Homo sapiens: one gene and its partners. The protein of the gene in region 4 purifies or fractionates together with the protein of the main gene of each other region. This does not show direct contact. Each region holds a gene or a part of one and is shown on either strand. Other genes may lie near its edges. The genes, in order: DIP2B, MTMR1, DIP2A and SELE.

Region 1 (3,209 bases), on a different chromosome or scaffold from region 4:
ATCACTTGAGGTCAGGAGTTTGAGACCAGCCTGGCCAACATGATGAAACCCTGTCTCTACTAAAAATATAAAAATTAGCTAGGCATGTTGGCGCATGCCTGTAATCTCAGCTACTGGGGATTACTTTGGGAGAATCGCTTGAACCCAGGAGGCGGAGGCTGCAGTGAGCTGAGATTGTGCCACTGCACTCCAGCCTGGGTGACAGAGTGAGACTCTGTCTCAAAAAATTAAAAAAGAAAATACAACTACCAAATGCTACATGAGTGGGAGGAAGACTAAACTATAATTATTACCTTGAAGAGTCCTGACAACAGGCTCCTTAGTTTTCAAAGTGACACCCTGATTCCCTGACCTAGTATCCTTTAATAGCACTGACTCTGGATCTCTGTGTTCACTTTCCTTAGACTACCCCAGCTATCACTGGGTCTTACCATCTAAAGTTAAATTTAAAATCTATCAATTCCCTAGCCTCCACCCAATGTGTGAAGGATTAAACAGAATCAGGCATCAATATTTATTAACACAAGACAAAGGAAACACATTCAATGAGTTAATAGAACACTGTCCAGCCAGATGTTAAATTTAAAAACGTATATCTAGTCTAACTTCAAATAAATAAAAAAACTTTATACATAATTACACAGTACTGTAGTTTGAATTTGACACGGGTAAATATCTTGACAGAAAGTAAACAAAACAGCATTTAGGACTAAAAAATTATTCTTATATCTTTAGTCTCTTCCTCTGGACAAGTAACATGGCCCAACTACATACACCTAAACCAGAAATGTCGTATGAATGATAAAGAAAAGGCCTATTGTGTATTTGGCGCATTGCAGCTTCTTGCTCCAAATACTCTTGCTTTTACATCAAAGCAGACAACAAAAACAACACTAAGGCATAGATCTTGTTGGAGTTTGAGGATGAGGTGATAACTCCTCATTGCTTTAGACTAAAAGATTCCTGGATATTCAAGGAAAGTAATTTATTTGGCCAAGATATAGAGCACCATGCCTGGGGCAGAGACCTTAATAGAAAACCTAAGGCCTCGGGCCCTTGTTGAGTCAACAAAAGCATTAAGCAAGGATTGCCCAGGGACTAAAGTAAGGAGACAGACTCATGTGACCAAGACAGGCAATGGTCCCTAAACAGCCTGAGGCAACACAACTTCATGAGGAAAGGACTTGGTACTGGGGAGACCTGGCCCTTTATGAGGCAGGAAGTAAAGACTGTGGATTCACTGACACTGATTAGCATGCTGGTCCTTCCCAGGGTCTCACTGAATTCCTAGGATCTAGGAATTTTCCTGAGGCAGCCCCTTCCTGATCTACTTCAGTTACTTCTGCTGAGAACCAGAAAGAGGTTCAGAAACCTTCAGACCAATAGATTTCTCTTAACTGAGACAGAGACTTGTTTAGTTTTTTTCCACAGACATTAAAAACCCAGACAGAATATGTTCCAGAGGATTGGAAAGGCTGTGTTTCTATTAGTAATGGCCTTTCAGGCCTGCCTTAAGAATCAGTTCTACCACAAAAGTGCTACTTAATGTGGATAGAGTAGGAGCACTGTGTCATCAAGAGAACATTTTCTTACTCGAGTCTGTGGCAGAGTAGGCTTTAAATCTGCAGGTGATCCCACAAACACCATCTAAGCAAATGACTGGGCTCTCCTCTCCCTCCACAGGATGCTTTACCAGAGTTACTGATGAAGTTCCTCAAGGACAGTTCTTAGCCTTCCTTCCTCCATGAGCAGATTCTGGCTTTGGGGGACATGCAAAAGATCAATAAAGCAGAAAGCAAAAAATAAATTAGAGGCCTGAGGAACTACAAAACTAGATAATCAGCCTCTAAGTAAATGGGAGTTGGCCACACTTTGAGATTAACAGAGTAATGTATTTGAAGGAATGAGTATAGATCTGCACTGTCTAATATGGTAGCCACTAGTCACATTTGGCTACAAAGACTTGAAATATGGTGATGGTTTGAATTGAGATGTGTTTAATACACACTGAATTTCAAAGGCCTAATATGAAAAAAAGTAAAATAACTCATTAATAATTTTTATATTGATCCTATGTTGAAATGATAGTGTTTTTGAGCTATTGGGTTAAATAAAATATATTTAAATCAATACCATGGGTTTCTTTTTACTTTTAAAAAAATGTGGTTACTAGAAACATTTAAATTACAGATGTGGCTCTCATTATAGTATTTACAGTGGACAGTGCATCTCTAGATGCCTATACCCTAATCTGTGTTAGTAAGAATTATCAAAGCAACCCACAGAATAGCATCTAACCATAACTTTTAGAACTTGGGGATTATAGAGCTAGACTTATTTATATCAGCTTCAGGATCCCCTGCTTTGTTTAGTGGATCATTAAAAATAGTTTTAAGAAAATTAAGTATCAGGCTGTGTTCTCTGCAAACCAAACCATTGCTAGACACTGGGATTTCCTGTGTGCCCCAATGTAAGTGCTTTTTTTCTATCCATCCTAGGACTTCCCTCATTACGTGTAAATTAATTCCATGAAAATGCTGAAAAAGAGATCTGGAACTGGCAAATGTCCTGAGCTCTGCCCTCTGTGGAGGAGTGGGGAGGAAAAGAGGATTACATGAAGGGAGTCACAAAGTGGCTTTTAGTCACATCACAAGACCGTGTAATGGCAGCCCTAGAGCACTGCCACCGCAAAGGAGCTGGTCTTTGCATTATAAACCTTATTTTCAGGGTAATTACAAGTCTTAAAAATTGTTTAAAAACATACTTAGTTTACATGATGTTACAGTGGGGTAAATAATATGTATTATTAAAATAGTCTAAATAAATATTTACACAATAGACCAGAGTGGGTCAAAGAGAACCATTCTGCTTTGACAAGTTAACTCTTCTCACTTTTGAGTACTTTTTCATTTTTAAAAATATTTCTGTTAAGAAAAAAATAATACGATTTAACTATATTCAAATACATGAAGTATCAGACCAAAGAAAGGAAACCGAGCCAGAGGCCAAACTCAGTCTCATCTCATTCTACTTGGCCTGGGCACCAAAGTTATTTCAAAAGAGTTTCCTGCATATGTCAGACTTCCCCGGTTTCAGCATAAGCCTGGCTGCTTTGGCAACCCAGATTGGTCAGTTTTGTGTAGTTATATGGCCTTACAGTTCCATGTGATGGTGGATCCCCACTGCCTTCCTGGCCTATCATTCTTGTT
Region 2 (7,036 bases), on a different chromosome or scaffold from region 4:
GATCACATTAAAACTATAGTGTCCTAATTTTCATAAAGCTGGCCCAGATCAAATTCTTTTGAACACAATTGAATAATGTTCTAGCAAGAAAGGCATTTAGAGGTGAATAATCTAATCCAAGCCCCTTTATCCTTCCAGAAAAGGAAACTGAGCCTCAGAGACTATACAAGGTCACAAGCTAACCAATATTGTTTGTACTACTCCATCATGTTCTCTTTTCATAACCTAGTCCTACTTTCCAAACAATGGAAGCTGTGATCAATGATGTCACTTCTACTAATAGTTCCTAAAAATGTTTCCATTTGTAACTGTATTATTTCATCTAATCTACAGAAGATTACATTCAAATTTTGTTCTTAAAATTTCTGGCAAATTCAAGAGAAATTTTTTACCATTTGTTAGCCTAGTAAAAATGAAAGCAATTGAGTTGGTAGTGGAGGGGGGACAAGCAAAACAAATATTTTATTACATTTTGTGTAATAGTCTTAATTAACAGGCCAATCTTCAGGATGACTCGGTATTAAATCAGGCATTTATTAATTTAGCTGCCACACAATTCAGTATAATAGCTATCTACTCTTTCAGCTGGGACAATGCTTGCCAAACTTGCCATTTCACATACCACCTCAACAAGTTTGGCTTGCTGTATCTGCCAACTGCCCATACTAATTTTGTATTTATCTTTATATTGATTTAAAATCCATTCCTTTTTAATACTTTGCCTGCTCTAAGCCATAACATCTACTAAATCACAAGCCTGATGTGCTGATTTTTCTAATACACAAGAAAATAATTACATAGCTACTAAAATACGTCCATGGACATACCATCTAAACTCATGTCACGTGATACCAGCGATATTCTTACTGTACTTTAGATGAGCTGACCCTGGGCTGACTGACAATTTATGATATGAGTAAATAATAAAATAATTATTCTCCAATATCTGAGTTGCTAATTATTCAGATTCTTAGTAATATACCAGAAATGCAGGGTCCCATCACCAATTTCAACAGACAGAAACTCAGGAAGCCTAGGTTTTCAGATTTTATCATGCATAAGAAATATATGAGACACTTGTTTCCCTCCCTCAGACACTCTGATTCAGTAAATCTGGGATGGAGCCCGGGAAGCTGCATTTTTACAGGTGCTCCAGAGAATGCTGTCTTGGGAAGACCCAAGGGTCACATTTTGAAAAACAGTGGATGAGGCTGGGTATGGTGGCTCACACCTCTAATCCCAGCATTTTGGGAGGCCGAGATGGGAGGATCGCTCGAGCCCAGGAGTTCAAGACCAGCCTGGGAAACGTAGTAAGACCCCATCTCTATAAAAAAAAAAAAAAGAAAGAAAGAAGAAGAAGAAAAAGAAGAAAAAAAAAGATCGAAAAGCAGTGGATGGGAATGGGGGTGGGACAAAATCTTAAAATCACTCTAGCTTTTCAATAGGATGACTTGAGTTCAAATCCCAAGTCTAACTGTATGACCCTAAGCAAGTCATTTCATCTCTCTAGGCCTCGGTTTCCTCATCCATTAAATGATGATTGTAGTAATAGCTACCTCAATGGACTTTTTTAAAGAAGCAAGATCTCTCTATGTTGTCTAGGCTAGAGTGCATTGGCTTTTCACAAGTGTGACCACAGCACACTGCAGCCTTGAACTCCTGGACTCAAGTGATCCTCCCATCTTAGCCTTCCAAGTAGCTGAGACTACAGACCACCACACCCAGATTCACTAGGTTGTTTTAAGGCTTAAATGGATGACATGTCAAAAAGCATTACAAAACCCCAGAGCCTGTATGTGTTAGAGGGTTGATGATGATGATGATGATGATGACATAGAACCATTCTCGACAGCCTGTTACAACTCAGAAGACAATCAGCATTTCAAATAAGATGCCAAGCATTCTGCTCCACATAAACATCTGCTCCCATTTAATTACTGATGTTGAGTTTAATCTATAATAAATTAGCCCCCAAATTAAGTGTGTATTTCAAATAAGACATTTACACAACAGATAATTTCAAATATCAGCTGATGACTGCAACTTAAATCCTCAAGGAACTTTATCTGGCTCTTCAGGGTCAACCCCATGCAATAGCTCCCATGCCAGAGGGGTCCCAAAGGCCCATTTTGGTTACCCTGATTTTAAGAACTACTTTATAGGGAACATGTACAATTATCCTTGTGGTTTAGAAATATTTTATGTATTTATTATGTAAAAAAAAAAACTCTCCTTGAAGAAAGTGTAACAACCCCTGAGTTATAAATTTAACACCAACTTTTCAGATTTGGCTGCAGGGCAAATATAACAAAGACAATTATAAAACATGCCCCCTTACAATAATTCATCAAAGACTTTAGCTATGATCTGATGTAGGAACTTAAAATTTAATTTCCAAAAGAAAGAAAGCCTTATTTTTTCTGAATACCATCTGTTCAACCATTCCAACATGAGCTAATTCAGCTACACAAAATTTGTAAATAGACTGAGATTGAAAAAACTTAGTTGCTTCATGTTAAAGTACAGATTCAGTCTGATCTATTCATGCAATGTTAGAAAGCTATGCACACAGTCGACATTCAATCTTTTATAGGACACACACAACACTAACAACTATTCAACCTTAATGAAAACATTACAGTTAACTCATAATTGTCCATAAAGAAAATCACCCCGAAGTGTGAGAGCTATTCTCTGCTAAAATGGGTTCTTAAGTCTCTCTACTCAGCGGGCAGTTTCTCAGCTAAGGTGCAGGCAATAGGGCAACTGGAACTGATGCGATCCGCAGCTGCTCAGTGACCAGCCATTCACGCATCAGTGATGCAGCAAATGCTTCTCCCACCTGGAGACAGTGTGTTTGCCCGACCAGGTTTTAAGGTCCAGGAGCCCCAGCTGCTCTTTTATGGGCAAACATGAACACCACATAGCAGGAAAAATGATTAAGAAATACACTGTCACTCTTCTAGCTGGGCAGATTATCCAATTTCTGCTAATCCACAGCTATGCCTTCCTTTGGTAGGCATAATCAACAGCATCTGCCAGTTTGGATGAGGCAAGAGACAGCACCATAGCCAAATCTCAATTAATTGGCCTCCTGAGCCTGTTTCTGCACTTGTTATTACCCTATGAGCTCTAAAGAGGAACTGAAGATAAAGCTCCTAAACAAGGAGTACCTATTAAGAATTAATTAGGATCTTTACTGTAATTCTTGATATTTGTAAGATTTGATGTCTGGCAAGGACCATGATATTGAGAGACTATTAACTAATGGTAGTCTGGGATACCAAATGCATTTTACACACACTTGTGAAAAATCAATCATCTCTTACTAGCAGGAAAAATGACCACTAATAAACAGAAACCTCAACTTAGGCAAACATCAGTACTGAAATATAAATGTGATTTCATTTAATATACCTATTAATAGTTTATTGACATTAAAACAAAGTTAGTCTTTAGCCTTAACAAAGATGGAACAAGCGATTTTTTTGATTTGTTAATTGATTCAATATTTATTGAGCAACTGTTATGCTCCAGGATTGTGCCTGGGAAGCCAGTGGTAAAACTGCCCTAGTCTCTGCTGACAAGGAGCTTATCACTTAAATTTAGAATAAGCAGGGAATCTAACTTTTAAAATGAACAAAAAGAGATTTTCACTTCAGTAAGGACTGAAAAATGAGGCTGCCCATACAATACTCTTTTGAGATTCTGGAAGGGTTTTTATACATTCTAGTATCACATGTTAATGCTGAATACTCACAGATAATACATAAATTAAAAAATTGTGAAGTTAGGGAAGTATTGTACATCAAGATATTTCCTGAAACTCACAATACTAACAAAGAAGCTATATGCATTTATTATTATAAAATGGAACTTGATTTTTAAAAGAATCATTGTCATCTAAAGACAGCTTCTCCTTTCAATTACAAAACTATGACTACATGTACTGGATACTGGTAAAATTTCTCTTCTACATTTCAGATCTAACAACAGAGAACCTTTCATCCTTATTCTCGAGCAAATGGCCATGTTGCATCAAAAGGCCAACAGCTCACTTGAATTAAAACTGCAAAGCTTCTTGGCTACTTAGCATACTGAAAATGAATTAAACACTCAATGTTGCTTACCTTGTAATCTCTGGACACATTTTCTGATGTCACTGAACCTGAAATCTGACTAGAAATTGTAGCAGCTATAAGCTGTTTACACCATTCAACATGTGATCCTGTGGGACTAAAAAAAATAGCATGGATTACAAAACGTTATATCATAGGATCTCAGTGAAAAAATTAGCACTGAATAGGAATATGATAACACTTCTTTTTTTAGATGAACTAACTAGACTCTTTGGTTACCTTCACATTTTATGTAAGAACTGAAATAGCGACTGACAACTAGGAAATAAGATTAGATTCCAGGTTAATTTTAAATGAATCACCCAATTTTCTCAAACAAAGTTGAAGATTCTAGGTGTTAGTTAAGCTTACTATTCTCTACCATTTAATGGAATTTTACTCTATTAAAATTATATGGAAGAAATACTTCTTTTTTTTTTTGTGAGATGGGGTCTCACTCTGTCACCCAGGCTGGAGTGCAGTGGTGCAATCTCAGCTCACTGCAACCTCCCAGGTTCAAGTGATCCTCCCACCTCAGCCTCCTATGTAGCTGGGACTACAGGCACATGCCACCAGGCCCGGCTTTTGTGTGTGTGTGTGTGTGTGTGTGTGTGTGTGTGTGTGTGTGTGTGCGCGCGCGTGTAGACAGGGTTTTGCCATGTTTCCCAGGCTAGTCTCGAATTCCTGGGCTCGAGTGACCCACCCGCCTTAGCCTCCCAAAGTGCTAGGATTACAGGCATGAGCCACCACACCCAGCCGGGAGAAATATGTGAAATATTTATCTTACAGCATAGGCTTTTCAAACATTCAATCAATTTCATGTTGGTAGTTTTAAATCTAGAAAATAGTGTACTTTTGAGTGAAGCAAAGTGACTCAGAAAAGTAAAGCTGAACATGAGATTTATAAATTACAGCCTAGAAAAATGATGTTCTCTGTGTAGTACTAACAATACCTTACACTTCTATAAGTGCTTTGACAACTTACAAATGGTTTTTATTTTTTATTTATTTTTTTTTTTGAGACAGAGTCTTGCTCTGTCACCCAGGCTGGAGTGCAGTGGCGCGATCTCGGCTCACTGCAAACTTTGCCCTTCTGGGTTCAAGCAATTCTCCTGCCTCAGCCTCCCTAGTAGCTAGGATTATTTAGGCGCATGCCACCATGCCTGGCTAATTTTTGTATTTTTAGTAGAGACGGGTTTTCACCATGTTGGCCAGGCTGGTCTTGAACTCCTGACCTCAGGTGATCCACCCGCCTTGGCCTCCCAAAGTGCTGGGATTACAAGCACAAATGGTTTTTATTATATCAGAGCCTCACAACCATGGTGTGATGAGAAGGCAGAACAGGGACTAGCCGACTTGTCTTTGAGGAGAGAAAATCGAGGCACAGAGGTGACATGCCCTGTGAGAAAGTGGCTGTCCTCAACAGGACATGGAACAACCAATAGCGACTGACTCACTGCACTGAAGCCAGCAGCACAGATGCGAGCCAACCGCTTTACATGAAAACACAGCAATGCAAAGAAAATGTCATCTTTCACTCCCACAGAGCTCTGAGGCATCAAAGCATTTTCACACACGTAGCCTTGCCCAGCCTCACAGTGACCCATTTTACAGATGAAAAAATTAAGGTCCAGTTTTGCCCAAGGTCACACGACTGGCAAGTGGTCAGGCTGTACTCACCTGACCTGAAAGACCACATAAGCCAACTAGCGCAGTAAGAGATTTAACAATTGCCCCCAGAGGCCGGGTTCCTCTCACAATTTGGCAAAACACTAAGAAATCAAGCTAGAGGGCTAAAAACACCGACAAAAGTTTACCTTGCAGGTAGCTTTCACTGTAAAGAATGTTTCAGGCCTTTAAAAAAAAAATCATATCACTAATTAAACCCACACTCACATATCTGAAGGACAGAAACACCTGGAATCCCCAGGCAATATGGAAAATGACCCAAATAGTAAAAGAAAGAAAACTGAAGTTCTGTGCTAGTGATCCAAATTGCAGTCTCTGATCAAAACAGACCAGAGGTTATCTGTATGGTTGAAAATACTGAATGAGCAGAAATTCCTATCACATGCCAGGAATCTATATACCACAATTTCGACCTGAGGGGGAGAAGGAGAGAAAAGGGAGAGATTTGTTTCCTTTTTAAAGGTTAAGTCACTTTCATTCCCACGTATATCATACTTTTCTTGTCATAATGCCTTTTTCTGTCAGCACCCACCAGTTGCAAATACAGGAAGAAACTGCAGAAACCCAACTGCTGAGCATGAGTGTGACCTGCTATTACCACCTGCCTGCCCGGCATGCCTTCCCCCTTCTTCTGATAAAGACCTTCCTCTTTACTTTGGGAACTGCCCTTCCCCACAACACAGGCTTCTGTGGGGGAAAGCGGAGAAGAAGGTTGACCCCTTCCTCCACCTGCTCCCACTTGTAGGTGAGTTACCTAGGACCAGCCAATCCCAGACTTTTCCCCTTGGATCCTGAAATACATGGATCTGTATCCAGAGCTGCTGGAGGCCACTCCCCACCCCACCCCACCCCTACCATCTTAAGGAACTCACAGCGATTAAAAAGTGAGGGAAAATAAAAGAGAGAGGGAGAGAGAGATGGGGAGTCCCGACAACACTGTTTGCAATCCTGACCTCAACTGTGCCTGTGGCCATCTCTCCTCCTGTCTGGAGCAGTTCTGTGAGCCAGGGCATCTCATTTGCCTTAAGCTAGATTGAACTGTGGTTTCTGTCACCTGCAACCAGAAGCATCCTGGCCAATGTAGTTACACACAGTGAAGCACAGTGGGTTAGCAGACAGGAGGCCTGGACATGAGTCCTGCTTCTGTCACCAGCTAACTCCATGATCTTTGGCAAGACACATCCTCTTACAGGACCACAGCTTCCTCATTATTAATTACAGTATTCAGA
Region 3 (7,036 bases), on a different chromosome or scaffold from region 4:
AGAGGCACCAACAAGGTCAAGGTCAAGGTCATACCTGCTCAGCCAGCTTTCCCAGCCTGTTGGGCTGACAGAGGCCAAGGAGGCAGCAGAGTGAGACAGGGAGGAGACAGCCACAGGAAACACACACAGAAGCAGCAGCCACATGAGAAACACAGGGAAAGAGAGAGCAAAACCCACCTCTGTATCTTAAAGAGCAAACGTGAACATCCCATTAACATCATTTCTGCAATCATGTGTGGCATCCATACCCTTCCGACGTCTAGCAAGGAGGCCCCAGGCTTGCAGACGCAGAGCCGCTAACACAAAGGCCGGCACCCACGCTCAGCCACAGCCTACACAGGAAGCGAGCTCACAAAAGGCTCCCGCCCGATCTCCTCTGCTGCGTGACAAGGGTCTGAGGCTTGAGTGGTCAGGGGTCTTTTTGTGGTGAAGAGGGTGTGAGCAGAGCCCCCGCCCTGCCCTGCGTGCACTGCCACTGTGATGGGGAGGCACAAGGCCAAGCAAACACTTTGGAAACAGAGACAGACCTGCACTCAGCCCTGCTCTGGCACGGACAGGTGCCATTTCCTTCCAGCTATTCTTGTACTATGTGGGTGAATAAGGCGTTCAATATGTAGGGTTATCTAAAAAGCCATTTGGTTTTAAGATGTTTTTAGAAAGAAATGAAATTGAGATACTAGTACAAAATCTGGGCAACAGCTGTAGCTATCTGAGGAAGCAATAAACAGAACTGCCGTGAGCTCTTCAATCTCTGAAACTTGGTGCTACCTATGTTTTTTTTTTTTTTTTTTTTTTTTTTTTGAGACAGGGTCTCGCTCTGTCACCCAGGCTGGAGTGCAGTGGTGAGATCTTGGCTCGCTGCAACCTCCTCTTGCCAGGTTCAAGCGATTCTTGTGCCTCAACCTCCCAAGTAGCCGGGACAACAGGCGCGCACCACCAGCCAGCTAATTTTTGTATTTTTAGTAGAGACGGGGTCTCATCATATTGTCCAGGCTGGTCTCGAATTCCTGACCTCAGGTAATCCGCCTGCCTCAGCCTCCCAAAGTGCTGGGATTATAGGCATGAGCCACCACTCCTGGCCTGAAACTTGGTGCTTCCTTTTAATAAGACATTTCATGGTTTCAGAAATGAATTTGAGTCAACACAAATTACCACATTTATTAATGTTTCAATTTAATATTGCTAGATATCTTAAAACAGTAAGTTCAATCTTGCTTTAAGAACTTAGCTGTGTTTTATATCTAACTTAGAGAGTCTTACAGTTATTAGTCACTGTTCAAAAACAATGTGTTTTTTTTCCAAATAAGCCTTTCTCCAACTAGAATAGAACATCTTTAAAAATAAAACCCTTGAAGCTAAAATGTTACATGGAAATGAGATATCAAAGGCCCAGAGAAGGAGAAATAGATCAGGCGGCTACAAAACGGCACATTAACAACTGGGAAACTGGGTCTCCATGCTGCCAACAGCCAGCTTTCGAGAACCGCAGCCCCAGGCACCTCACCTGGAGGCAGATGGCCACGTTGACCCTGCACCCGAACGTGGTGCTTACGGCGCGGGCCGGCAGGCCCAGGTCCTTGAAGAGCTTGGAGAAGGACTGGGTCAGCGCAATCCTGGGCCGCTCCTCGGCGACCACCATGCACGTGCGCACACATGACAGGTTCACCCCCTTCATCTGCGGGAGGGGTGAGCGGTCAGGCCACGGCCACAGCTCAGTGAGTTGCCAGGGCCCTGGGCACTGTTTTGGGAAATCTCCGGGTGGGCACACAGAGGTGGAGCTGGACACCAACCTCCTCTCCGCAGGCTGTGTCTGTTCCACAGAATCCTACGTGTGGATGCGCTAAACGATTCCCATCTGACCTGCATCCCACACCTGCCCTCCCACGCGGCCAGACTTCCACCCCGCTATCTCGCAGGGACCCTGCCCTACCCCCCACCCTCCTCTCCTGCGGGGTGTGGAGCTGCAGAGACAGGTGGGCCGTGGGAGGACAGATGTGTACATAGGGCCCCTAGTGGGAAAGGGTTTTCTCTACTTCCTCCAACTGCAGGGAGGGGCCTTGGGAGTCTTGTTTTGTTTTGTTGTTTTTAAACTTCCCAGGGCTGTGGTCTGCAGCACACTCAGAAGCCCGGGTCTGGGCACTCACCCTGAGGACACCCGTCTGTGCGCCTAGGCCCTTGGTGCACATCTCCATCACAGAGTAGGAGCAGAAGGTGACGCGGGCCTTGTACTGGCTGACGGCCGACAGCCACAGGGACACGTTGCTCTCCAGCTCCAGCGGGGGCACCAGCACTGATTGGTGTCCCGAGTAGACACTGCGAGAGGGAAGGCTCGTGAGGCTCCGCCCGCCCACCCAGCACCCTGGGCACTCCACTCTTCCCTTCCTCAAGAACACTTCTTTTCCAGCCACAACAGGGGCATGATTTCTGTTCTGACGCCAAGTGGGGGGGTTTGGTGGAAAACATGCCACAGGGTGAAGGTTGGGGGATGGCAGGCACGGGGTTCTGAGCTCTGCTCCGAACACTTGGAGAGGATCCGGGGACACCACTCCAGAGGCATTCACTTCTAGAGACGGATCGCCACTTTCTAGTGTTTGAAGGAATCAAGCAGATTCTTCCCAAGTACTGATAACGGACAGTGTATTTAATGAAAAATGTATTTTCACTCAATTTCAGACTCAGACTCCAACCCACTTCATCCCCAAACAAACCCACTCACACACATCTCATCGGCTTCCTGAGCACCCAGAAAAGGTGCCTTAGAAGGCCAAGGTTCCTAAGAGCCACACGAGCTGCTCCCACCTGGCAGGCAGCAGGGGCCCTGCACTCACCTGCACAGACACCACAGGGCAAAACCAAGGCCACAGTAGGGGTCGAGGCAGATGGCGATCTGCCGCGAGGGGTACAGCTCACACTGCAGCTTTATGGAGCGGCATAAGGCGCTTGTGGCCGCGTGCGACATCTTAAGAGTAAAATAAAGTTCAAAAAAAAAAAGTGAAATGAAATTCAGGAGGGGAGAGGGTGGATGGCAGTGTCCGCTGTTCACATGGCTAGACCATAGCTCCGAACTACCAAACATCATATTTATTTCCTTAAAAGACGGTTGGCTCAAATCCCCATATAACCTAAATAATACCCAAGAAATGGTACACTAAAAATCTTTGAAACAAAATTTCAGGGTAATGAATTTTTAAAATTTTTTTCTTTTTTTTTTTTTTGAGGCAGAGTCTTGCTCTGTCGCCCAGGCTGGAGTGCAATGGCACAATCTCGGCTCACTGCAACCTCTGCCTCCCGGGTTCAAGCAATTCTCCTGCCTCAGCCTCCTGAGTATCTGGGATTAGAGGCACCTGCCACCATGCCCAGCTAATTTTTTGTATTTTTAGTAGAGACGGGGTTTCACCACGTTGGCCAGGATGGTCTCCATCTCTTGATCTTGTGATCCACCCGCCTCGGCCTCCCGAAGTGCTGGGATTACAGGCGTGAGCCACCACGCCCCGCCTGAAAAATTTTAATTGAGCTATTGACTCCCAGCAAGGTAAGAGATTCTTCAAAGCCACCAGTTCCTGTAAGCTAGACAGTCATAAATCAGAAAGTTTAGACATAACCATAATGCATCAGAAAACGCATTACTCTCAGGCTAATCACATCTTAGCATTTATTGGTATTTAACACAAATCTTAAGAAGCAAAATTGTTGCTTTGTGCTTTGCATAAGAAGGACCTGTCAGTTTAAATCTGCATCTGACATCCTTTCTGTCCACTCCTCCTGATTTCTAGGGGCTGAAGCAAACAAGATTTCAGAGGACCTACCTTCACTCCCGCTAATATCCCAGTGGTTGACACGCTGAAGTCCAAGTATGCGAGGACATCGGGGGAGGGGGGCCTGAAAACGCTTGCTATCTTCTTTTTTGGGATGTCATCTGTTAAACAGGAGACACCAGCAACATTAGTGTTCCCACATGTATTCTGAACGCTCTGGGCTTTCACAGGCAAGAGGCGACACATGATTTGTCCTTGGGAGTCCTGCAGAGAGTGAGCTCAGACGGGAGTGGGGCCGTGACGATGCAGGCTGTGCGTGCTCAGGAAAGCGTATTTCATTCTTCATGGAAACGCTACCCGGTCCCACCAAGACCACACTGAGCCTGTGGGGATGGGGGACGAGGCAGGGCGAAGAGGGGAGGCATCACGTCACTGACCAGTAGGAAAGATTAGAGGACTAGGGATTTGCCAAAAGTCACAGAGCCTATGGCAAAGCCCAGATGAGCCGAGTCCCGACCACAGCAAGAATAGCTGTGGACGGGCTCTGGGTTCTGCGTGCTTCATCAAGTTCTCGTGGCCCCATGAGCCAGACACCACTGCCTCCCTGGGTGCAACTGGACACAGGCTCAGCAGGGCAGGCACCGCTCCCCTTGAGGCAAGCCCGTGAGGCTTTGGGGCCCTGGCCAGCTGTTTGGCTCTGAGCCTGCCCTCCCCTACACCAGCTGCCCTGGCCCAGCCCCATCCAGCCCAGGCTGAGACAGGTCCACGGCAGAGGGGAGCCAGGGGGGTTTCTGACCCTCACCCTGTTGGCCCTCAGCATTTCATGGGGCATGACAGCATTCACCAATGATGGGGACAGGGATGCTGGAGTGGCGGCATGCGGTGGGAGCTGTGTCCTCAAAGCGTTTGCAGAAAGCCTCAGAGAGCTGCCAGCCCCCATGCCAGTAGGAGGCGGGTGAGAGGGGCAAGGCTGTGCTCCACACCACTTGGGACTGGGTGCGGCTGCTGTGGGCTGAGTGGAGCGTGGGTTTACACATGGGACAGGGACCCCTACTCCCCACCAGGGCCCGGGGCACCCCCTGCTGTCAGCCAGGCTCCTGCCAGGACTGCTCTTGCCTCACGTGTGTTTTTGGACGGCAGCCAGGCCACACCACACCTACAACAAAGAAAGGAAAAGGGACTGGTCCTGGGCAGTGCGAGGACACGCACCTGTGTCTAGGATGGTGGGCCAGGTCCTGATGTCCACGGCAGCAGCAGCCTCCTTGGACCTGAGCAGCCGTGTGACAGCCTGCGTGGTGAGGACGCATGCAGACTTGCTGACCTGCATGGCGAGGGGCCAAGGGTGGGTGGGCGGGGCCTCTCAAGCTGCCCAGAAAAGGGGGCAGCGGAGGGCAGCCTTGCAGCCTCCCACTCACAGACTCTGACCCGCGGGCCAGGTAGGCGCACCTCCACGATCATCTTGACGGTGGGCAGTGTGGTGCCGAGGTTCTGAGGGTGCGGGGGCCGCACGGTGACAGGCACGCAGCCACAGTACAAGCAGCCATAGAACGCGGCAATGAGGTCCACCCCTGTGGAGACAAGGACTGGCTGTGAGGAGGCCGGCCGCAAGAGGCTCCCACCAGCCTCTGTTCACTGTTCCTGCGAGAGAGGAGGGGAGGTGGTGCTGGGGGGGCATGGGTGACTCCTGGGTTTCCACAGGGGTAGCTGAGCTGAGGAGGCAGACACATGCAGAGAGGAGGGGCTGAGCTTAGTTTTGGAAGATGCTTCGGGGAGGGAGTGTCTAGGGGGCTGCTTAGGATAGGAGGCTGCTTACAAAGAGCTGCAGGTGGACAGCCCCACAGTGAGCCCACCTGGTGGGTAGACCAGAGCCACATGGTCCCCAACACTCAGTCTTCCCTTCTCCATCAGAGCCGCGGCCACTCTCTCAGCCCTTTTGTGCAGCTGGACACAGGTTGCAGTGCTTGTGACGGTGCCCTAGGAAAGCGATCTTTGAGCTCATCTGTATGCTGGTGCGTGCAGGTGGGCTGTTCGCAGATCTGCGTGCACACCACCTGCACGCCACTGCACACGACACCTTGTGATTAGCGTCCATGATAATGACAATGTGTCAGTCCTAGACGTACGGCTGGTGTCTTTTTTTTGGTAGAGATGGGGTTTCACCATGTTGGCCAGGCTGGTCTCGAACTCCTGACCTCAAGTGATCTGCCCGCCTCAGCCTCTCAAAGTGCTGGGATTACAGGCATAAGCCACCGCACATGGTCCACGACTGGTGTCTTTTCTCACCATCTGTACTCTCTCACTAGCAGTGAAGGGACAGGCATGCAAGTATCTCCTGTGTGGTCCCAGCTAAGAGGGAGAGATGCGGGCACTCCATTCACCCAGGGCAGAGCCAGAAACACGTGGGTAAAGAAGACCTTTCTGGCCTTTTCAATAAAATATTCCATACGACACCATTATAAATACATAATAAGCGATAAGCAAACATCCCTGAATTGTACTACTTTCCATGCCCACAGGTCACCTGCACTGAGCCTGGGCGTGTGTCATCTGCAACCGGCTTTCTCAGAGGCATCTGTGTGTCTCCTCTAGGACTGACTACACCAGCTCCTTCATTCACCCTGTCTCTCTGCTGAGGGGCACTGGGGCTATGTGACCAGTTCAAGGCAAACAGAAATACCTGGTAACCCTACCTCTCTGCTCAGGACACTCATCCTCCCTGATCCCCTGCCAGGCCTCGCAGCTTTTTTAGTCCTTCTTAAGAAGATAAAAAGTGCAATTCAGTCTAATAAATATAAAACTCCAGAGCAGACCAGTGTAACATCAAAACTCCCTGTTTCTCGATTGGTGGCTTCTACTGACAGAAGGCAGTGGAAGAGAGAGACCAGTGGACGCACTTATGTGCTGTGTCCAGGCACAAGGGCTGGGCAGATCCTGAGATTCCAAATCCCGGAAGCTTTGCCAGTCCATATGAGTCAGGGCCCCATCAGGACAGAACCTGAGATCTGGACTGGGACTCAAAGCCCGCAAGGTCTGGGATCCCACTGCATCCTTAGGGAAAACCCAGCGACCCCCAGCCTTATCTGCATCCCCTACCTGGGACCACCTGGCCCCCACCACACTGGCCTCCTTTCCTGCCTTGAGCCACTGGGCATCATTCTTCATAGCCCCTGCTACCCAGTTCCATTCAAAGCCCCCTCCCCAGCACTCCAGGTTACATCACTCCACTGTATTGATACTGAGGTTCACACCATAAGCTGATTTTACCTTGGTCAATGATAAAT
Region 4 (7,683 bases):
CTACTATAGTAGCCACTATCTGTGTGGCTACTCAAATTTAAACTTGAATTCGTTGAAATCAAATAACATTTAAAATTCAGTTCCTCAGTGTCACCAGCCACATTTCAAGTACTCAATAACCACATGTGGCTCATAGGTACACACTGGAAAACACAGCTATGGAACATTTCCATTATCACAAAAGCTCTACTGCACAACGCTGTGCTAAGGAATCTTGGAGAGAAGCTCATCTAACTCTCTTAATGTACAAATTTAGGAACTGAGACCTCATTTCATTCAAGTGACTTGCTCCATGCTACACGGCTAGTCATTACAGAGCCAGAGGCCAGAGCATGAACCAAGATACCCTGGACTCTGTAACTCACTCATTTCTACTGCAACGTCTTGTTACCACCTAGATGAGGTGAGTACATGTTCCTCGCAGGGACACAGAATTACAGTTTATTGAATGTGTCCTGTGTGCCAGGCACCATGTAACCATGAGCCTATGAAGTTCACACTATTATTATCCTCATTTTACAATGAGAAAACTGACATAGAGAGTTAAACTATCTTGTCAAGGTGCCAAAATAAATAACTGGTGAATCTAGGACTCAAACCCAGCAGGGTCTGACTTCATAGTCTCAGCTCACGATCACCATATGACACCATCTGCACCAGGGAAGGGAAGGCATGCAGACCTGACTCTAATGCCAGCTAGGACGTGAGATGGTGCTACCATCTCAAGTGAAGAAAGAGGCAAGAACCAGACTTACTTTGCTCACACTTGAGTCCACTGAAGCCAGGGTCACACTTGCAAGTGTAATTATTGATGGTCTCTACACATTCACCGTGGCCACTGCAGGATGTATTGGTACAGGCAGCTACGGAAAATACAAAGCATGATGAGGAGGACTATTACTGTGCTTATACTGAGTGCCTTTGATTTTAGAATCAACAGTGTGCAACAGAGACATCAGCAGTCCTACAGAGTGCCATAGACTTTAACTGAAGTGTTTTACAAAGTTCCAAATCTGAGTTTCAGGCCCACCTATCCTAAACCTTGATGCTAATGTATAGCTGTGGCTGGCACCTACCGTAGAAAATTTACTTCTTCACAAACTCTGAAGACAGTTCCCCTACCACAAATAAACAAGTAATTAAAATATGTATTGTGTGTGTGCATTTTTATATGTAAAGAACTACATATTTGCCTACAGTATTTATATATATTTTATATATATACATACACACATATATGTGTGTATATGTGTGTATGTATATATATAAAATGTATATAAATGCTGTAGGCTATATATATATACACACACACATATATGTGTGTGTGTATATATGTGTGTGTGTGTATATATATACATATCCACATATTCTTGCCCACATTCACACAAAACAGCAAAAGAGAGAAACTTTAGCAGTTAAACAGAATCTTTTGGAACATAAAATGACCACAATAGAGAGCAGTTTTTGCATGCTGTAAATTTGCCAAGATGCCCACACACTGAAACTACCTCCCACTGCTGCCGCAAACTCCCTACCTGTGTAGCATAGGGCAAGCTTCTTCTTGCTGCACCTCTCATCATTCCACATGCCCACATCTTTTTCTCTCTTGATGTAGATCTCCACGCAGTCCTCATCTTTTTGCCTATTGTTGGGTTCACCTGGAGCCCAGTTCTTGGCTTCTTCTGTCAGAGGTTTCTGGGTTCCTACCCAGACCCACACATTGTTGACTTTTCTGATTCCAATCCAGTAATAACTTGGTGAATAGCTCAATATGGAGTTTAGGTACTCAATCTCTTCTTTGTTTTGAATTGCAACCAGGTGTGTGTACCTTTGCTGACAATAAGCACTGGCCTCATCATAAGTCATAGCTTCCGTGGAGGTGTTGTAAGACCAGGCTCCACTCTCTTTAATGAGAAGCACTAGTGGGAGAAAAAGAAAAGAAATGGTAGAGTTTGGTACTGTTGTGGTTTAACTCTGACAACTGTGCTTTTTATTGTCTTATTTTTGGCAATGTTTGTGACATGGCCCAGACTTTTCTCATCTTTTCAAAAGTAAGAAGTACGTATGAAGAAACAGCGACTTATTGTTTATCTCTTTTGTGACTGCCACCCACTAGGTACCTTATCCACACTCACTCACAACATTATAGTATACCCATTTTGTAGTAGAATAATAATCAGAATAACTAAGCTTTATTGAGCACTTAGTATGCACCAAGAAGCACTGTATGAGGTACTTTCCATGAACCATGCTATTGAATCCTCACAATGCATCTGGGAAATAGGTCATTATGATCCACACTTTACACTTAAGGAAAGGGAGACACCAAGAGGTAAAGTAAATGACCCCAAGCCCAGGGAAGAACACATTGCAGGTAGAGGTCAAGGATGCTGCCAGATATCCTGTGCAGGACAGCCCCAGACAAGCAAGGATATTTCAGTCTGAAATATCTATAGTGCGAGAATGAGAAATCTTGGTCTAATGGCACTGACTTACCCAAAGTGAGAGCTGAGAGAAACTGTGAAGCAATCATGACTTCAAGAGTTCTTTTCACCCAAAGGTTTAGGCTTGAAATACTTTCCTGGGGAGATAAAACACAAAATGAATTAAAGAAGGAAATCGTGGGTAGCTAGTTACATTATTCTACCATGATGTTTAAGGCAGCATCCTAAGATTTTGGGCAAAGGACACTAGTGCAATAATCTTTATTTCAGAGTTTAATCAAATAAATAAACAAATTTTAAGACTTTCATTATTTAGGTCAAAGAGAAAAGACAGGTTTTAGCTACAATACAATAAGAGCTTGTACAGATGTGGTTTTTATTAGAAGGCCTTTTGCATATCTGTGTTTCATGGCCCGAGGCTGCCCTTATAAAGCGTTCTGCACTTACCGTTTTGGGAAGCAGTTGTTCAAACACAGGATCTCTCAGGTGGGTATCACTGCTGCCTCTGTCTCAGGTCAGTATAGGAGTTTTGATGTGAAGTCAGCCAAGAACAGCTGAACACTACTTCGGCTGAGGCCCTTTTATAGGAGGGATTGCTTCCTGTGAATAATAGGAGGATATTGTCCACATCCAGTAAAGAGGAAATCCCCAATGGCATCCAAAAACTTTCCCGGGAATATCCACGATGCTTAAAATTACAATGATGTCAGAAACTCTGTCTCTTGAAGCTACTTCACCTTTGTCCATGCCTTTATATCGTATATGCAATTTTATTAATATGACAAAAATGCATGATTTTTAATTATAATAACATAAAGTCTATGTCTTTAAAAAGTTGTAAAACTTTGCTTGTTAGTAGTGTCTCTCATGTAGTTGTGGTAGTAATTAGAATTTCAGAAACAGAAGGAAACCAAGAATAGGTTTGTCATCCATAGTCTACTACCTTCAATTTCTCATTCATAGCTGTGGATAACCAATCACTACTCATTTTTTCTTCCTTTTTCACCTGCCAATTCAACATATTTAACATGCACTGTCTCACAGAGGAATGACTCACAAGGTAGATATTAATCTTCAGATTTTGCACGGCAGTTATGCCTAAATTAAAATATTATCTAAAAATAATATCTAACACTCAAATGGTTAAAATAATGCCTTATTTTAAAAAAAGAAAAATGGGAAATAGATATTTACATCTGGGAAAGTTTCATGGTTTGTTCAGTGAAAAAAATAAAAAGGAGGCCAGGCACAGTGGCTCACGCCTGTAATCCCACCACTTTGGGAGGCCGAGGCAGGCGGATCACCTGAGGCCGGGAGTTCAAGACCAGCCTGACCAACATGGAGAAACGCCATCTCTACTAAAAATACAAAATTAGCTGGGCATGGTGGCGCATGCCTGTAATCCCAGCTACTCGGGAGGCTGAGGCAGGAGAATCGCTTGAACCCGGGAAGTGGAGGTTGCAGTGAGCCAAGATCACGCCAGTGCACTCCAGCCTGGGAAACGAGTGAAACTCTGTCTTAAAAAAAAAAAAAAAAAAAGAAAAGAAAAGAAAAAAAATAAAACGGAAAACTATATATATATATTTAATTGGTCAAAATTTTGTTTAAAATTTTTGAAATGTTAATGTGCAAAGAATAAAAATTCTTCCACAATGTTAACAGTGACTAACTCTGGATGGCAGGATTTGGGATAATTTTTATATCCTTCATTATTATTTTCAGGATTTTAAAGTTTTTTTCAATTTCCCTTTTTTTCACCTTTATAGTAACAAGAATACAGTTTAAAGAAACTTGTCTCTAGGCCAGGCATGATGGCTCATGCCTGTAATCCCAGCACTTTGGGAGGCTGAGGTGGGTGGATCACCTGAGGTCAGGAGTTCCAGACCAGCGTGGCCAATATGGTGAAACCCTGTCTCTACTAAAAATACAAAAATTAGCCGGGGTGTAGTGGCGCATGCCTGTAATCCCAGCTACTGGGGAGCCTGATGCAAGAGAATCGCTTGAACCCAGGAGGCAGAGGTTGCAGTGAGCTGAAATCACACCATTGCACTCCAGCCTGGGCGACAGAGCAAGACTCCATCTCAAAAAAAAAGAAAAAAAGAAAAAGAAAAGAAAAGAAATTTGTTTCCAAATGCAACAGAAGGAGATGTATGTGGTATCCTATATTCCTGCTCTTCATTTTGACATTTCTTCTGGGTGATTGTATACATTCCCCATCTCTGCATCTTACCCTATCTAAATGATGGTAACAGTAAATGGGGATCATTTTAATTTCCATATTCTGTAGGTTTTCAGAGCTCAAGTCAAGCTAATATTCTATATCTACAGCCTTTCAAAATAGGAGGTCTATCTAAAAATGTACTGTCAGCAGACCTGAACGAGTAGTGGTAAAAGCCTCGTTTTTCTCTTTACTTGTTAGCACTGGTCTTTCTGTGTTCATAAAGATGTCAAGACCCAAAAAAAAAACAAGAAAAGAGAAGAAAAATTCCAAAAAAGACAACTGATTAGAAAAAAATAACTTAATTAACGAATTTAATTCAACCCCTATCAAAAAGCATAGAATTTATTCCCTCCACCTTACCACTCTCTTACATGATCCAGATACTGACATTATTCCAATTCTTTATCCCACTTTACTTAGCTCAATGTGGTTGTTGCTTCAATAAATTCAGAAGAGTAATCACTCATATAGTGTTTATTTAGATTTTAGGGCAGAATGTCAAGTTGGGTTAATACATTATCTGTATGTATTTTATTTTTAATAAAGTATGAATACATAATCTGCTATTTTTAAAAAGCATGGTCAAATGTATAGAGTAGCCAAATCTTAAAAAACAATTTATCTTCGATATCAATAAAGTACCTAATAATTATATTGCTAATAGAAATTAGTCGTTAACATCCCTAGATAACTAACTTTATTATTGCGAATTTTTCATAACTAAGTTTATAGTTTATCTCTTCCCCTTTTTAAAATTAGTTCAAAGATATCTAAAAATAGCCCCAGTGGTGATGAAGTTTCTATTTTACTTACATATATATGTCCTGGACCCCCAATTATAATCTCTAACATTTATTGAGTGCTTACTATGTGCCAGGCCATATTCTGAGCATTTTGTATGTTCACCTATTGATTATTCAATCCGTACAACAGCCTATGAAATAGGTACTCCTATTATCCCCATTTTACAGATGAGGAAATTGAGAATCTGGGGATTTTATCTCATTCAAAAGCACAGAGCTAAGGGTTGAAACCAGGCAGTTGATATCCAGAGCCCACTCCCTTACCTGCTACTCCAAACCATGATTTCTTTTGTTGTTATGCCCCGAGATTCCTTGTTCTACCCAAGTTTCCTGTACTCTTCTTGCCCTCTTCTTCCTGAGACATCCTTGACCATCACAGCTCTCCACTGAGATAACTGTGTCCTGGGTTCTGAGACATGGGGGCTGGAAGGGACCCCAGGGACAGTGAGCAGTAGGGAGAGGATGCAGTGAGAACAGACCCTGGATCCCCGGTGCATAGGCAGGGAGAAAGTGGACAAAGGAAAAAACAAGCAAGGCAGGTGGAGCCATGCCTAGGTAAAGTTGATCCCTAAGCCACAGTTCCCAGAAGTTCCTGATTCAAAAGCAAATTTTCTCTAAGGTCAAAGGGCAAACTGATTATTCTAAATTCTAAACTGATTATTTCTAAATTGAGAAAGCTTCAGGGAGAGATCCCAATATTCGAAGGATAAGAGAAATGAGGAGTGGAAGAGATAGGTGAGTAACAGTAACTTAAATGTAGACTATATATAATATATAATATATGTAGAGTATATATATATAATTACAATATATTATATATGTGGAATATATATATTATTTATATATATTTATATATTTTATATATATAGATATTTTTATATTTTATATATAAATATAGATATTTTTATATTTTATATATAAATATAGATATTTTTATATATATTATATATAAATATATGTAAAATACTGTGAAAGAAGAATAGAATCTTGAGACCTCAAATTCACTATGCCAAAGGGAAAGTTAAGCTTGGGAAATGAGTCATGCAAAAACTGCCTTCCTTTTGTTCCCAAATACCTGTAATTTCACATGCTTACTTTATCTTATATAAAATGTAGATGTACTGAGCATGAGATCCATGCATAATTTCCCTCTAGTCCCTTCTTTTTACATGTAAAGTGTAGACTCACTGAGTGTTACAGAGCCTTGCCACAATGTAAACACTTGTCTCATTGCCAACCCATCTTTCGTTTATTTTCTTCCCCTCCTGCTTGCTCTTTCCCCTCTAAAGATGGAAGTTCCCAAAACTCTCTTTGGAAAAAGCGCAGGTCACAGATCCTACAGTGATTTGTGTTTCTTTTACCTGGGACAAAATAAACCTCTAATCTGTTGAGATATGCTTCAGTTACTTTTTGGTTTACAATATGTACATGTATGTATATAATTTATATGTATATAATATATGTACTTGTTTTAACCAGAGGTATGTTATTCAAAATCCATTCATCCTTACAATTACCTGCATTCTCCCACAGTATTTTCTGTGTCCCTGCCCCCGAGGTTGTCACTGCAAATCAGGTACATGGATACTGGGAGCTGATGGGCTCCCCTCTGGCTACCTGGGCTGCTGAAGGGGCCATAGACAGACCCAGCTTTCCTCTCGTGGAGAGGCCCTGGGCCAGCGCTGCGTGGGAGTGGGATTACAACCAGACTATAGCTTCTTCACCTGCTTTTTCCTATCAGGATTTCATAAGAGGCAATTGCTTGTTTTTTGAGGGTGGGGGCAAATCAGGGGGAGTTGAAGAGGAAATTGGGTAAGATTTGAATAGTTGGGCATGTTGAATATTATGAATATCATCTCCCTCTTCAAATAATCCAAAATATACCCCCAAGAAACAGGCTGATTAGAGGTGCTTCAAGGCTCCACTGAATCTCCCAAGCTCTGAAGATGTAGCTAGCTGTTACCGGATTGCCGGTTTTCAAGCCTCGCCTCACATGGACCCTCTTGGCAGTTTCTCGCATGGGGGAAGCATCCGCTACATAGATGGGAATGAAAAGAGGAAAGAAGACGGTGCAAACTCAGGCACACCCCGGTGTCTGCCACCAGTGCTATTTAATCTCTGAGGTGTCACCCTTCCTGGCTTTATTGTCTCTTCCTGGAAGTCTCTTGTCCTCTCCTCCACACCCTTTAATCAGGCATCAAAGACTTTAACCAGT

What was found.
Region 1: the proteins of SELE (region 4) and DIP2B purify together in Homo sapiens (affinity purification with mass spectrometry; 2 studies listed by BioGRID and IntAct, with this or other methods). This does not show direct contact.
Region 2: the proteins of SELE (region 4) and MTMR1 purify together in Homo sapiens (affinity purification with mass spectrometry; 2 studies listed by BioGRID and IntAct, with this or other methods). This does not show direct contact.
Region 3: the proteins of SELE (region 4) and DIP2A purify together in Homo sapiens (affinity purification with mass spectrometry; 2 studies listed by BioGRID and IntAct, with this or other methods). This does not show direct contact.

The regions. Positions count from the first base shown.
Region 1 is NC_000012.12:50,745,949-50,749,157, reverse strand, and holds the end of DIP2B (disco-interacting protein 2 homolog B), read right to left. Parts: 3' UTR 501-3,209; downstream 1-500. UniProt on the Homo sapiens protein: Negatively regulates axonal outgrowth and is essential for normal synaptic transmission. Not required for regulation of axon polarity. Promotes acetylation of alpha-tubulin.
Region 2 is NC_000023.11:150,696,395-150,703,430, reverse strand, and holds part of MTMR1 (phosphatidylinositol-3-phosphate phosphatase MTMR1), read right to left. Parts: intron 4,237-7,036; coding exon 4,131-4,236; intron 1-4,130. UniProt on the Homo sapiens protein: Lipid phosphatase that specifically dephosphorylates the D-3 position of phosphatidylinositol 3-phosphate, generating phosphatidylinositol. Could also dephosphorylate phosphatidylinositol 3,5-bisphosphate to produce phosphatidylinositol 5-phosphate.
Region 3 is NC_000021.9:46,552,862-46,559,897, reverse strand, and holds part of DIP2A (disco-interacting protein 2 homolog A), read right to left. Parts: intron 5,730-7,036; coding exon 5,606-5,729; intron 5,324-5,605; coding exon 5,202-5,323; intron 5,077-5,201; coding exon 4,965-5,076; intron 3,917-4,964; coding exon 3,807-3,916; intron 3,496-3,806; coding exon of another isoform or gene 3,469-3,495; exon of another isoform or gene 3,060-3,468; intron 2,960-3,059; coding exon 2,829-2,959; intron 2,314-2,828; coding exon 2,145-2,313; intron 1,676-2,144; coding exon 1,505-1,675; intron 65-1,504; coding exon of another isoform or gene 35-64; intron 1-34. UniProt on the Homo sapiens protein: Catalyzes the de novo synthesis of acetyl-CoA in vitro. Promotes acetylation of CTTN, possibly by providing the acetyl donor, ensuring correct dendritic spine morphology and synaptic transmission.
Region 4 is NC_000001.11:169,731,080-169,738,762, forward strand, and holds the start of SELE (E-selectin precursor), read right to left. Parts: upstream 3,001-7,683; 5' UTR 2,892-3,000; intron 2,582-2,891; 5' UTR 2,534-2,581; coding exon 2,497-2,533; intron 1,920-2,496; coding exon 1,536-1,919; intron 864-1,535; coding exon 756-863; intron 1-755. UniProt on the Homo sapiens protein: Cell-surface glycoprotein having a role in immunoadhesion. Mediates in the adhesion of blood neutrophils in cytokine-activated endothelium through interaction with SELPLG/PSGL1. May have a role in capillary morphogenesis.